Regions from separate parts of the Homo sapiens genome. Here region 2 is linked to region 1. The links come from fine-mapping of genetic effects on gene expression. A gene starts in region 1. The other region holds a variant in brackets. All regions are shown on one strand. Distances are from middle to middle.

Region 1 (2,902 bases):
TAAAAAAGCCCCATTGAGGGTAGGAGGGTAATTAGGTTCAATTCTTCCATTTCTAATTTTTAAAAATTATAAAGTTTTCAACAGTGTGTGATTCTCAGGTATTCTTGGCTAGAAGATCTCTTGATTTCAGATTTAGCATGAGCCTCTTCCTGATGGAGCAGCAGGTTGCTTTGCTCACTTAACAGTATTGTTACATAAACAAGCAAGAGATCTGTGTGCTACAAGTAAAGTCAAAATTTCCATCTGAATTTCAGCTAATCATGATATAAGGACCAATTCAGGCTTTGGATGTTTCAGTCTCCTGAGCCGTGCAGCTGTGTTTTCCCTCCTTTCACTAAATGCTGTAGTTTAAGATTTAGAGAATTATGTAAAACACACTGGCAGTGCCAGGGCTTAGAAGGGGTAGGATCCCCTGCCCAGTAATGTTGGCTGATGTTCTTTCTCCCTTTTTTGCTGATAGTAGGGGAGAAAGTTTCTTGAAAATGATCCAGTCTACAGGAGACAGTCTACAAGGGTCTACAGGAGCAAGAGGGGTTTCAGACGTTACCCAAGCCTTCTTAGTTTCAGGACTATGCTTTTTCTTAAAATAATTCTGAGAATTAAGTGCAAAAATATGCGAATGTCACATGTGCCGTGTGCATTTATAAATAAATGTGACATGTAAAGGTGTATTTATATATCTACCAATTGCACTGCAAAACCATCCCCAGCTCATAGACCAACCAGTCTTCCAAAATACTACTGTGATGCACTTAAAACCTGCAACTCTGCAGGAAGGTGACCTCAATGTACCTTCTTTGAATTTGCAGAACTGTGTACAAGAACACAAACTGTTTATACAGGATTGTAGCCTTTTTTAAATGCTAAAAAGGTCCCCATGATTTGCTTTGTTTAAGACATACACTCAAAACTTTATTAAAAACATTTTTCAAAAATAGTTTCATAAAGCTAGACACATCAGCAAGCCTCGATTGAGGGGTGGAAAATGAATTGTATATCTTTAAACCGCAGAAGTTAAAAGCCTTTTTTGTTGTTGTTAGCTAACAATGGAAACTTTTTTTTAAGTGTTTCCCTCCCTCGTCTTGCCAAGCAATAGAAAAAAAAAAAAAAGAAGAAAAGAAAAACTTGTTCCGCTGAGTTCAACCCCAGACAGGCTCACAACTTCCTTCCTGCTTTCCTCCCCCAAGCCTCCGCCTTTCTCCCTCCTCCCTCCTCCACTACCCCCCCCCCCAACAACTTTTCTTTCTTTCTTTTTTTTTTTTTTAATCGTGCATTGAACAAACACTGAAGTAGCCCGGAGCAGACACTGACAGGGGCAGTATCTCCACGGTCGAAAAGGGCGTGCAGGGCCGGCTTGGCGTCGCCACTGCCGGGATCGCCGGGCCCCTGAACCGAAGAGCTTTCCCCCCTCTTTCGCACTCCTCTTTTTTGTCTTCCATAGCTTGTGAGAAAATAATTTCTGAGCATTTTTACTTTTAAAGCCATCTCGTCCCTACGAGGTTTGCGCCTCTGGGCATGTAGTCTACACAGGACCTGAGAATCTGAGAAACTGCAGGTAAGTTTGGCGGCCTTTTAATGGCTCTCGCCTCTGAACAACCCTCTTTTCCCTCACTTTCTGCTCTGGAGCGAATCTCGGCGTTCCTGGTTCCGAAACAGGGCAAAGGGGTGGGCTGGGGAGGCAGGGAAGGGGGTTTGATTTTGGAGGGTGACATGGAGTGGCGGTGGGGAGAAAATAGGGAGAGACGAGGTCTCCGCATTTCTCCTACCCGCCTTCCGGGCCGCTCACTCCGCGCCGCCTCCCTCAGCGCGCTCCAGGAGTCCCCAGGCTGGGGTCTCGGGGCGGCTCTGCTGGCGCCGGGCGAGGCTGCCCGGGATGCGGAGAAGCCCTGCGCTCCGCGGCGCTGCCCTGGGGTGTTAGAGCGCCGGCTCCTGGGAGGTTTGCAGAGCTAGAGGCTCTGTGCACCTAGGGCTGCTGCCCGGCTGCAGCCATGCACGCCCCTAAGTTCCTCCGAGTGGGCGCGGGTCCGGGAGCCCGCAGGGGCAGTCGCGTCCTCGGCAACAGGGCGCGCTGAGAGCGGACTCGCTCCGCGCGCGTGCGGCGTATACACACACGCGTGTATACACACACACTCACAGACACCCCCCCATAGGGGACGACGGCAGGGGGGCAGCAAGTACTGGTTCCGGTAAAGAGAACGTGTAGAACCTCGGTGCGCCCACACTCACAAAACACTTGTCTAGGGATAGGCGACAAGGCTAGCCCTGAAAAATGCTTCGGCTGCGGCCCCGCTGCCCGCCCAGGCCTTCGTAGGCCGAGAGACACAGCCCCAAGGCTAGGGTCAGGAAGGTAAACGGCGGGCACGCGGGCGCCCTCCCAGATCCGGGCGCTGGCAGCGGCTCGGGCAAGGCAGGTCCCGCTTAGGTTCCCTCCGAGCCGGTCGGTCTCTGATGCCCCGAGAGGGTGGAGCAGGGAGACCCTGAAGCCCAGGGCGAGGGCTGCCGGGTTGCCCTGGATAGCCAATGTTTGCTCAGGCTGGGGAGACCCGGAGACGGTGGCTGGGGTGTCCTCAGCCCGGGAGAGCTGAGTCAGCCGCGCCCCGCACACAGCATACTTAGGAGCCAAGGACTTGGACCTCGCTTCTCGCCGGTCCGCGAGACGAGTATTAGGATTGGGATTTGAAGGGACCTCATAAAGCGCATCGCAGCCTGGGGCGAGGTGGGGGGCGGGGAAGCACACCCGAAACCGCGCTGGCGACCGAGGCAGCCGGGGCATGCCCTCGCCGAGCCTCGCCGTCCCCATAGGTGAGATGTCCGGTGGCGCTGGGTCCCGGATAGATTGTGTTCCCGGGGCTCTCTCTGGGTTCTGCAGGCGACCCCCAACTCCCCCCGCGCGCCCTCCAGG
Region 2 (2,902 bases), 110 kb after region 1:
CAGAAGGGTGGTCGCCGACCCTGGAACCCGATGCCCTCTGCCCAGGCATGGCCATTCTTGGGCCGGCTCTGCTGCCTGTCTGAAAATGGGGATTGGAATTGCAGGCACCCAACTGTCCGGCCTGAGCGAGCCTCCCCACCTGGTCACCCAGGCCCCGGGCCGCAGTGGGGAGGGCGAGGCCCGGGCTTCAGCTCACCCTTCACCCCCATGTTCTCCTCAGGTCATTGGCAGCTCCCTCCTCTTCATCCACGACAAGAAGGAACAGGCCAAAGTGTGGATGATCGACTTTGGGAAAACCACGCCCCTGCCTGAGGGCCAGACCCTGCAGCATGACGTCCCCTGGCAGGAGGGGAACCGGGAGGATGGCTACCTCTCGGGGCTCAATAACCTCGTCGACATCCTGACCGAGATGTCCCAGGATGCCCCACTCGCCTGAGCTGCCCACGCCCTCCCTGGCCCCCGCCTGGGCCTCCTTTCCTCCTCCTGTGCTTCCTTTCTCGTTCCTAACTTTTCCTTCACTTACACCTGACTGACCCTCCTGAACTGCACTACAAGACACTTTGTAGAAGAGGAGATGAGAGTTTCTAGTCATTTTCCTAACTTCAGGGCTTGGAGGTGGTGTTTGCACTGCTTTTTGTAGAGAGGGTCACCTACTAGAAGAGAAATGCCCAGTCTTAGAGGTGGGTCAGGTGTAGAGCTGGAGGGGGTCCCTGGCTGCTGAGGGGACCCTACCAGATGAGCCCTGCCTCTGGGAGCCCCCTAGGAAGCACCAGCCTGGACCTACCACCTGCGGAGGCCTGCTGCCCCCTGGCGGCCAGTGCTGTTAGAGTGCTGCCAAGCACAGCCTTATTTCTGCCGGGGCCTCCCCACCGGAGAGCCCAGGGGGCCGGCCGGGTTCCTGGTCCCTGGCTGGGAGCAGGGCTTTCTGGTAGTTGGGGCACAAAACCATCGGGGAACCACATGTTGACTGTGAGCAAAGTGTCTTCCGATTAGCAGCCTCAGGGATGCCCTGGTGGCCTCTCCAGGGCTGCTCAGGCAAGGCCCCCCACCCATCTGGTATGGAAACCTGCCGGCTCCAGGCCAGACCCAGGAGCCAAGAGAAGGCTGAAGCCAGCTTGGCTGTGTTCTCTGATCTAGGCCTTCCCAGAGGAGGCGAGCAGAAGCTGTGCCACTTGGAATTGCAACCCATGAGTTCAGAAGGCACACTCTGCCATGCTGAGCTCCAAGGGTGCTACCAGGGGAAGATGGGATCTATAGAGTCTCTGGGCCCTGGCCCCAGGGAGGAGCACATTTTTCTTGACCCTCACCTACCTGGTGCTAGTTGGTCAACCCTGCCTGCATACATGGGCTCCTGTCATGGGGCCCAGAGTCCCTTGCAGATATAGAAATAGGGGAGGAGCTCAGGTCTGCGCCAGGCAGGAAGAAGGCAGGCTTCTGGCTTCCAGAGGTGCCGCGGTGGCCTCCTGGCATCATTTGTTATTGCCTCTGAAACAAGCCTTAC[T/C]GCCTGGAGGGCTTAGATTCCTGCTTCTCCAATGTAGTGTGGGTATCTTGTAGGGTATGTGGTGGATGCCAGGGCGTGCTCCAGGCACCTCTTCCTGAAGTCTCTGCATTTGGAGATTCGTGGAGAACCTATTTAAGCCCAATTTTAACTGAAAGCCAGTGAGTCTGATATGGAAGGGAATGTAAAATTTGCCTGACTTCTTAAGAACAAAACCCCCAGCTCTGTGCCCCATGCTCCTTGGGGCTTGCCACCCACTCCTTTGCTGTCAGAGGTACAGGAGCTGGGAGAGTCCAGGAGCTAGGGACACAGAGGGAGACTATGGACCAAGGTGTGTGTGTCTGGAGGAACCACTGCCCACCCCACCACCCCGGGGTCTCTGGGGAACTGTCAACCTGCCCACGGGACATGTACATTTCCCCTTTTGTGCTGGAAGTGTGAGTGACACTTGCTGGGGGTGGAGGGTGGGACACATGAGGATGTATAAGTACAGATTTTAAAAAAGGAAATCAACTTACACTTCCTGGCTCTTGTTTAAAACAGTGGTGAGCTCCTGTGTGGGCCGACTTGCTAAAGGTCACACACGCGCCCGGTGGAGCACGAGAGACCTCGTGGCAGCATGTGATCTGGAAGGCAGGCAGGACGGGGGCGTTGGGGAGCCAAAGTCAACTCTGGGCCTCTGGAGCTATAGTGACTTTTGGGCTAGAAGGGACCCTGGTGGTCTGTGCTTCAGCCATTTGCAGGGCAGGGGCATCATTAATTCAGACGTAAAGATTCTATGAATATGGACTGGCCAAAAGTTATCCTTACTCCATCTGTGAAAGAAGTTTGCTAAAGCAAATCATGATATGAACAAAAATTACAGGGGACCTGTTTAAGAGAACAAAATGTTCCAAGCACTTTAGGCAGACACCAGCTGTTTGCAAACAATGTGCTAATATGCAAATGATGTGCTTATTAAAGGAGGCCCATGGGGCCTCTTATTGGCAATACTTGGCTGTGGGTTACATTAAATATGTGAACATAGTATGAAGTAGCATCATTTTAGGGTTATTCTGTTACTTAGGGTTTTTGTTTTCTGTTTTTTTTTTCTCTTTTTTTGTATTTACCGTGCTAGTTCTCTTCTACACCTACTCTGTCTCTCAAGCCATTTTGCCACTCGCTTCCCTGCCATCTGGCCCTTCCCTTTGTCTCAGTGGGATAGATGGATTGTGAAATGGAATCTCCCAGAACCCCTGCCCTGGCAGCCTGGAAGACCGTGCCTGCCCAGCCCTCGTCACCACAGGGACTCCTTGGGTCCTGGCAGTGCATGTGCCAGCAGGCAGGACAAACTCTGTGTACCTGTGCCCAGGTGAATGGGCGCAGGGTCCTCTTGCCCTGTCCTGCGGGGGGCCCCACGAGTTC

What was found.
Region 2: its variant is fine-mapped to the expression of ITPKB in whole blood (TOPMed, PIP 0.99).

What each region holds. Positions count from the first base shown.
Region 1 is chr1:226,737,694-226,740,595 of GRCh38, reverse strand. It overlaps ITPKB (inositol-trisphosphate 3-kinase B), which reads left to right and starts at 1,314. Exons shown (of 8, transcript NM_002221.4): 1 at 1,314-1,555. RefSeq lists enhancers at 1,308-1,557, 2,181-2,680 and a silencer at 1,778-2,017.
Region 2 is chr1:226,632,205-226,635,106 of GRCh38, reverse strand. It overlaps ITPKB (inositol-trisphosphate 3-kinase B), which reads left to right. Exons shown (of 8, transcript NM_002221.4): 8 at 221-2,902. The coding sequence ends at 436. Among named protein-coding and RNA genes, the nearest start is that of ITPKB-IT1, 41 kb to the left of the region's middle. RefSeq lists an enhancer at 2,050-2,199. The variant T/C (reference allele first, on the strand shown) is at 1,502.